Linked DNA regions of Homo sapiens. The protein of the gene in region 1 interacts with the protein of each later gene in a pairwise test. Each region holds a gene or a part of one and is shown on either strand. Other genes may lie near its edges.

The links.
Region 2: the proteins of SGSM3 (region 1) and CHRM3 interact in a two-hybrid assay, tested with the Homo sapiens proteins (one large-scale study listed by BioGRID and IntAct).

The regions. Positions count from the first base shown.
Region 1 is NC_000022.11:40,394,562-40,398,374, forward strand, and holds part of SGSM3 (small G protein signaling modulator 3), read left to right. Parts: intron 1-3,813. UniProt on the Homo sapiens protein: May play a cooperative role in NF2-mediated growth suppression of cells.
Region 2 is NC_000001.11:239,385,165-239,389,432, forward strand, and holds the start of CHRM3 (muscarinic acetylcholine receptor M3), read left to right. Parts: upstream 1-1,403; 5' UTR 1,404-2,063; intron 2,064-2,076; exon of another isoform or gene 2,077-2,173; intron 2,174-4,268.

The DNA.
Region 1 (3,813 bases):
CTTGAACCCGGGAGGTGGAGGTTGCAGTGAGTGAGATTGTGCCACTGCACTCTAGCCTGGGTGACAGAGTAAGACTCCTGTCTCAAAAAAAAAAAAAAAAAAAAAATTCCAGTTTTTGCCATGGCTAGAAGGGCCATCTGTCAGCTAGTTCCTGCCTCCTTTTCCAACGTTATCTGCTACTTTCCCCCTCATCACTACTCTTCTAGATCTTCACAGACCTGATCGTTATTCTCATGTGAGCTGAAAAGTCATTTCCTGAGAGAGGCCTTCCCCAACCACCAATTAAAAATAACCCCTCCACTCCTACCTGCCACTTTGTAACCTATTGTTCTGTTTTCTTCATGGCATGTATTATTATTCTGAAATTATTTACATATTTATTGTCTGTTTTCTGTAACTAATAATAACTGGCATTTATTAAGCACATGCCACGTGCTGAATATTGTTACAAGTACTACATTTTCTCACTTAACCTCATAAGTAGTATAGGTATTATTTCCATTTTACAGAAGAAATTGCAGGTTCATGAAAGCAAGAACTTTGTCCATCTTGTTTTACTGCTATATCTCTAACACATGGAACAGTGTTTGGGATATAGTAGTTGCAAAAAATTTTTTTTGTTGGTTGGATAGATGAATGAAAAACTCCCAAATTGACGTTTCTACCTCTGACATCTCCCCATAAACATAGATTTATAGATGTAATCACCTACTTAACAGCTCCACTTGGATTTCTAAATAAGCATTTAAATTACCCCATAACTCTTTTTTTTTTTTTTTAGACAGGATCTCACTCTGTCGCCCAGGCTGGAGTGCAGTGGCACGATCTCAGCTCACCGCAACCTCCACCTCCCAGGCTGAACCAATTCTCCTGCTTCAGCCTCCCAAGTAGCTGGGATTATAGGTGCCTGCCACCACGCCCAGCTAATTTTTGTAATTTTAGTGGAGACGGGGTTTCACCATGTTGGCCAGGTTGGTCTCGAACTCCTGACCTCAGGTGATCTGCCCATCTCGGGCTCCCAAACTGCTGGGATTACAGGTATGAGCCACTGTGCCCAGCCCCTGCCCCGTAACTCTTAACTTCTTAACTTCCCCCCTCCCCAAACCTGTTTTGTTCCCATTTCTCTCATATTAGGAAATGGCATCATCATAAGCCCAGGAGTACAGACTGGAAACCTAGGCCTTGCCTGTGGCCACTCCCATTCTCATTCCCCACATCCAACTCTGCGGCAAGGCCTGTTGATTCTACCTCTGATTGTGTCTTGAATCTGTTGCTTCTCTTTTTCTCCACTGTCACTTCAGCCTCATTCTCCGTAATCTTTCCTCTGCACGCCACACTTGCCTGCAAGCATCCACTCTTGTCTCTCTACAAGCTATTTGCCCACGTAGCAGCCAGATTGGAGCCACGTACATTTTAGAGGTGTGCTGAAGAATAGGCGCCAAGGAGAAAAACCAGGAAGAAAACCAGTATTTGGTACCCTTACCTTGAAAAAGGTATTCATATATTTTTTCCTTTTCTAAAAAATGTTCATGTTTCTTTGAGCATTTATTGTCTGATTTTACCCCTTTTTAGCATCTATAGAAGCCACATTAATCTTTTTTTACTCCAGCCTTTCTTGGACTTTCCCGGCTTTGTGCTTCTCTATCTAGGTGAGTTTTTATCGATAGCTTCAAGTGTCCTCTTCCCCTCCTCACAGAGGAAATGCAGTCTTCAGCATCTGAGAGGCCTCTTAGAAGTATTTTTGCTCAGGCCGGGTGCGGTGGCTCACACCTGTAATCCCAGCACTTTGGGAGGCCGAGGCGGGTGGCTCACTTGAGGTCAGAAGTTTGAGACCAGCCTGGCCAACACGGCGAAACCCCAACTCTACTAAAAATACAAAAAATTAGCCAGGCGTGGTGGCACATGCCTGTGATCCCAGCTACCTGGGAGGCTGAGGCAGGAGAATCGCTTGAACCTGGGAGGTGGAGGTTGCAGTGAGCTGAGATTGCGCCACTGCACTCCAGCCTGGGCGACAGAGTGAGACTCTGTCTCAAAAAAAAAAAAAAAAAAAAAAAAGAAGTATTTTTGCTTATGTTGCTTACAGCTTTCATGTTCCATGGTAAATGTCTGTAGAAAACCATCTCTGTAGTAGTAGCAACTATGCTGTGTTGTTAAGAAAATAGGACACAGGACAGGACAGGAGGACCAGAGTGAATGGGGGGCCATATCCCTCTGATCTATATGAAGAGACCACAGGAAATGGACAGAACCTTTTCTGCCCCTCCCCATAGATGGGGGAAAACAGGGTGTATAGTAAGATCTGACCTTCTGTGCTTTTTAAACAAAATTTGCCTTATAGGAAATTGTAAGATTAGCAAACTAGGGAGTATGTACATTTAATTTTGAAAAATTCTTTCTAGAGCTCCTCAAAGGTTCCTAAATCAATCCTGTTTTTCAACTTTCTGCCTCTCAGTACTCCTGTGACAACAGGAGGGCAGCCACCCTGACGTGGCTAACTCTCTGGGCTGTTCCTGCCAACTCCCAGATGGCTGCTTTCAGGAAGGTTTCCATAGCGACCAGAGGCAGGAAAAACCTGCCCACCCAGCTTAACAATTCACATCCGGCTGGGCTTTATAGCCAGTGGGAGAAGTGGCGTGTTTATATATACTTATATACATTACATACATTTATATGTGTGTGTAGCATTAAAGAGCTCAACCCTGCAGACTCTATATCCAGAATCTGGCTGGGTGTGGTGGCTCACACCTGTAATCACAGCACTTTGGGAGGCTGAGGCAGGAGGATCACTTAAGCTCAGGAATTCAAGACCAGCCTGGGCAACATAGAGGGACCTTGTCTCTAAAAAAAAAAATATGATAAAATATATCCATAATCTGACCATTTCTCAGTGTTCCCACCATAGGAAAGTCAACATACCTTTCACCCTGACTAATCCAACAGCCTCCTCTATGTCCACCACCACCTCTGCAAGACAGCCAGAGAGGGCTCAGAGCCCTCCCCTACTTTCCCAGCTCACTGAGAATGAAGCCCAGAATCCACCACACTGTGAGGCCTCGTAGTCCCCTGCTGTGTCTTCTCCCACCATTCAGGCTGTTTCCTCCCACTCTTTCCTTCTCATTCCCCAGCCCCTCCAGCCTGCTGGCTGCCTTGCAGCTGTTTCAGCATGCCCAGTGTGCTCCCAACTTGGGGCTGCTTCTCCCTGGATCTCCTTTCCCTCAGGTAGCCATGAGCCCTCAGTTCCTTTTGGTCTTTGCTCAGGTGTCCCTAACCCATATTCTAAAGAGCTTCTCCTGAACACTTGATATAAATCCCCTCTCTTCTGATAGTCTCCACACCTTGACCTTTATTTTTCCTCACAGCATTGTAGTTATCACAATCTATTTCTGTGTTTATCATCCAATTCTGTCTTTTTTTTTTTTTTTTTTTTTTGAGATGGAGTCTCTGTCACCAGGCTGGAATGCAGTGGCGCCATCTCAACTCACTGCAACCTCTGCCTCCTGGGTTCAAGTGATTCTCCTGCCTCGGCCTCCCGAGTAGCTGGGACTACAGGCACACGCCACCACGCCCAGCTAATTTTTGTATTTTTAGTAGGACAGGGTTTCACCATGTTGGCCAGGATGGTCTCAATCTCCCGACCTCAGGTGATCCACCCACCTCGGCCTCCCAAAGTGCTGGGATTACAGGCGTGAGCCACCGGGCCCAGCCTGTCATCTGATTCTCTAATGTAAGGGTCAGGACTTTTTCCCCCACTGTTGTGTCCCAGCTCTTAGAAGCTGCCTGGCTCTTAGGGGTGCTCAGTCCCCATTTGCTGAT
Region 2 (4,268 bases), on another chromosome or scaffold:
AAGTAACTGTTATATTTTCTTCTGAGAGGTATCCCAATAAAAAGGCTACAATATTGTTATTATTATTACTATTCTAGTATCCTGGATGCAATTTACCTAAGCCTAGATATTTTAATTAATTTAAGTAGCCACATGCTTTCTCACTAGCTATTTTCCCAGCATGATCTCAATCTTTTCTACGCAAAGTTTAGTCTCTTCTCTCCTAAAGATTGTTCTACCTAGAGAAGAATATAGGTTCAGAAAGGAATTCATATACTGGTGTTTCTCTAATCTCTTAGAATTACTTAATTTTTCAAAGAGCTCTATCTTTTCCTATTTATCTTCTTGTTCCAAATAGAATTAAAATCATTTGCTGCCTTTAATATTGTTAAATATTTCATTTCATACTATGCTTCAATTTCTTGCTTTTTTCTTCTTTTTATCTTCCTCCTTCCTTCCTTTTTCTTTCTTTTCTTCTTTTTCAGTTATCATTGTTATGCTTGTCCTTTCTTGTGAGATTCCTCTGTTATCTTTCCTTATGTGCTTTTTAAACAAAACCTCGAGAGTGCCGTGGGACAGCCTCATTGGTATCTTTTCAAATTTGGTATCTCTCCACTTTTTCCTTACATAGTTAGCTGGCAGTAGTACATAATAACCTTTTCTGTCTCTCTCTCTTTCTTTCTTTCTTTCTTTCTTTCTTTCTTTCTTTCTTTCTTAGATTTTCATTCCTCTTGAGCTTTAAAAGACTGGCTAGCAATGTTATATCTTTCATTTTATTTTCTGATTTAAAAAAGTGTGTGTGTGTGTGTGTGTGTGTGTGTGTGTGTGTGTGTGTGTACGCGCGCGCGCGCGCGCGTGCACGTCAGTGTCTTCTTCATGGATGCTTGTCTTATTTTCTCCCAAGGTGTAACTGTCCAGGGAGGGAAAAGTCAAGTCGTCCTCTATTACACTGCTCTGCAGAAACAGACTCACTAAATGTCAAAAAGTAGATGCATCAGACTGTTCCTTAGAGAAAGGTTTGCCATGGAGTCGTATATTGTAACTGAGCTGAAGTTCACTCATCGATAAGTTGTGCCCAAGGAATCGAATTCCTTCCAGTCCTTCTAAGCAGTCCAGGGAAACCAATTTAAAAGCGAACACAACAAAACTAACAGACCGGCAAAATCTATCTTTGAAGCGCCGCGGGAGGCACAATTTGGGAACAGGTGAGGCCATGCTGGGTGGGTGAGGCCCCCCTCTCTCCTGCTTGGTGTTCCGCTTTCAGCCAACCCACCCCAGGAGTACCCTGGGATCTCCTCGCCCCCTGCCAGGCGGAGAACGCGGAGCCCAGCGGGCACGCGGGAATGGAGCTAGGCGCCGGCAGGGCAACTGGGCATGCTCAGAAGCCGGGCAGGTTTTGGTCTCAAGCACGCAGCCTGTGCATTACACCAGCTCTCTCAGTCCGGGGAGGAGGAGGAGCAGGAGGAACGCGAGGAGGAAGGAGAGGAGGAGCGGCCAGCAGTAGCCACGACCGCCACCACCAGGCAGAGGAAGAGTTCGTGGGGAGGAAAAGACCTCTCCTCCCCCTTGGAGCGCCTTCTCTCTGCTTTTGGAGAAAGGGAATACACGATAAAGAAGGAGACGGAAAGAAGAGAAAAAGTGAGGCGGGAGACAGAGGGAAAAGGGCGTGAACAGAAAGGGCCGGAGCGTGCAGGGGAGCACAGGGCGCGGGGGCGGCACTGCCGAGCCGGGAGCGCTGCCGCTTGGGCAGGTGCCGCGGCCGCTGCCCGGAGGCGGCATGTGACGCGCGGCCGCAGCTGCCCGCGGGCGGAGCGCTCTCAGACCCCGGAGCGCACACCGCGGGGCCATCGGTGCCATCGCGGATCTCCAGGCTCCTCATCAGTCCGCCGGGGCCGCAGCAGCGCTTCTGGGAAGACGGGCGATGAACTGAAGGGCGGCTCCGGGCAGGGGGGCACGATCTTAAGGACAGTCGCTCCCTGAACGCGGAGCCGGAGGAGACGAAGGGAAGGTGGAGCGGACGCCACCCGCGCACCGGGCAGGCGCGGAGACCGGCGTGGGACAGCCACCTGGAGCGCAGCTGCCAGGTAGGGACGGCGCCCGCCACCCAGGCGCTGGGCAGAGCGGGTGGCGGTAGCGGCTGACCTGGTTTCTTGCCTTATCTCGTTGCGAAAGGAGGAAAAAGTTTTCGGCGCGGGTAGGAGAGGTCTTGTGTTTGGAGTCCAAAGAAGGGGCTGGGTAGGGACGAGAGAGGCTGTTGATTTGGGGAAGATGGGGGCACTTGAATTCCGACAGCGCGATCTGGTGCGGAGTTGGAGTTCTGGGACTGAGGGTGGGGAACGCCCGCTGGCACTCAAGTGCCCCGAAAGGGACGGGAATCATGCGAGCGGTGGCCGGGAGAGAGTCGGGGACGTCCCACCCCGCTCTCCCTCGCTTCGATTCTCTCTTCGCCACTGCCGGATCTGAGGCTCCAAAGTGCCCGAGCATGAGGAGCTACTGGGCTCCGGGTGTGTTTGTGAGCGCACTCGTGTGTTGAGCGTTTGTCTCCCATCTCCCCATTTGGTTTCCTGTCATTTCTAAGAAGGCTAAAGCTGGCACCCGCCAACCTCGCAGTGGGGCCGCAAGTTCGGATTGCATTTCAGGGGGCGAGAAGGCAAATTTGGCACTTCGAGTAACACTTGGGCGAAGGTACCTAGCCTAGTGCGCATCTTTACTGACCCGGGGAGAGTCTGCACTCGCGAGGCAGCGGCCGCTGGACTGCACCGGTTCTCCTCTTTGGAACACTTCCTCAGCATAGCCTCCTAATAGCGAGGTTAATTTTTGCGTGTTTTTAAACGGCGGGGGCGGGCGGACAGTTGACTCCAGCAGCAGAATTCACTTGTCTACTTCGCGGTGTGCGTGCTGGAATTGAGATCCTGTTCTGCATGCTTGTGCGTGTGTCCGACTCTCCTTGCACGCATTTGGAAGTGGTAGAGGCAGCAGGGATTTGGGAACTGCATCCATATGGATAGGTTTCAAGAATGCAAACCTTCATTTGTCTGCAAGTGTTACTGGAACCTGTCCAAAGGCTGCAAGGATATGTCCCCTCGATCCCCGCCAGTGTCCGTGTTTGCAATGTGAAAGGGCGGCCCTCTTTAGGACAAAAATGTATTTATCAAAGCGATGTGTGGTTAAGAACACTGGTTATTTCACCATATGCTTTGCACAGACTTTTCCTTTCTCTCTTGCCCTCTGAGTTCCAAGACAGATAACCTGTCCCCTCCCCCCATTTTGACCTTTGTAGGTTACTATTTGAAAAATAATTTTTAACTGGGTGCAGTGATTATATAGTCCAGATAATTTCATATTGTGAGATCGTTATATCGCATGAACCATTCATCATTATTTCCTGTGTTTAAAACAATGCCCATGTATTTACTTAAGAGAGACTATGAACATATAGTTCAGAAAGGGGAAAACTAAACCTAGAGCAGATACCTGCATATAAGCGTATTGTAGTGGTAGCACGTTAATAAAAAACTAAGGTATTTCTGTTCCAAATATTGTGGGATAGACGAGGTGTTGAGTGCACCCTCTTGTTATAAGAGCTGATATCCCGAAGTATACATGTGCAAGGAACATGCCTGCTTCTTCAGTGTGCATTCCAACATGCCACAGAAATGTGGTTTACATCATAGCTTCTACCGCCGAATAGTCTATCTTTAGATTTTGTTTACATGGTTTGTCTCAATTAGCTTAATACATAATTAGCTATTGTTGGGCTAGAAAGCACGTTATTTTTGTAGTGGTTTCCATATGGAAATATAACGTTCGCTTAATTACTAATTTAAAAATAATGACATTGCCGGTCGGATTTAGAATGTTTCTCTAGGTTGGGGGGTATTATGAGATCGAATGTAGCACGAAAATAGCAATGTCGAAATATTGTTTTTTAAATAACGTTGCGTCATTAATCGAATGAACATGACAGTTGAAAAAGAAAATGAGATAAAAAGTAGACTTTGAAAAATCTTTATAAATTTTCTGTGTGGAAAATTATTGTAAGGGAAAAATGTAATTTGGGAAAAGGAGCAAATGTGGAATTGGTCAAGTTTTAAAGAAAGAACAAGTGTTATAATGAGTAGTTCTGTATTAAACCTACATTTAAGCTTATTTAGGAAAGTTTGCTTTAAAATTTAGAGAAATCTATGATGAATATTCAGTACCCTACTTTTATTCTGGGGTAGGGGGAAGTAAAATGTCACTTCAAAAGTATTATTTACTTCTGAAGATTATTTAGGCATGTGTAAAAG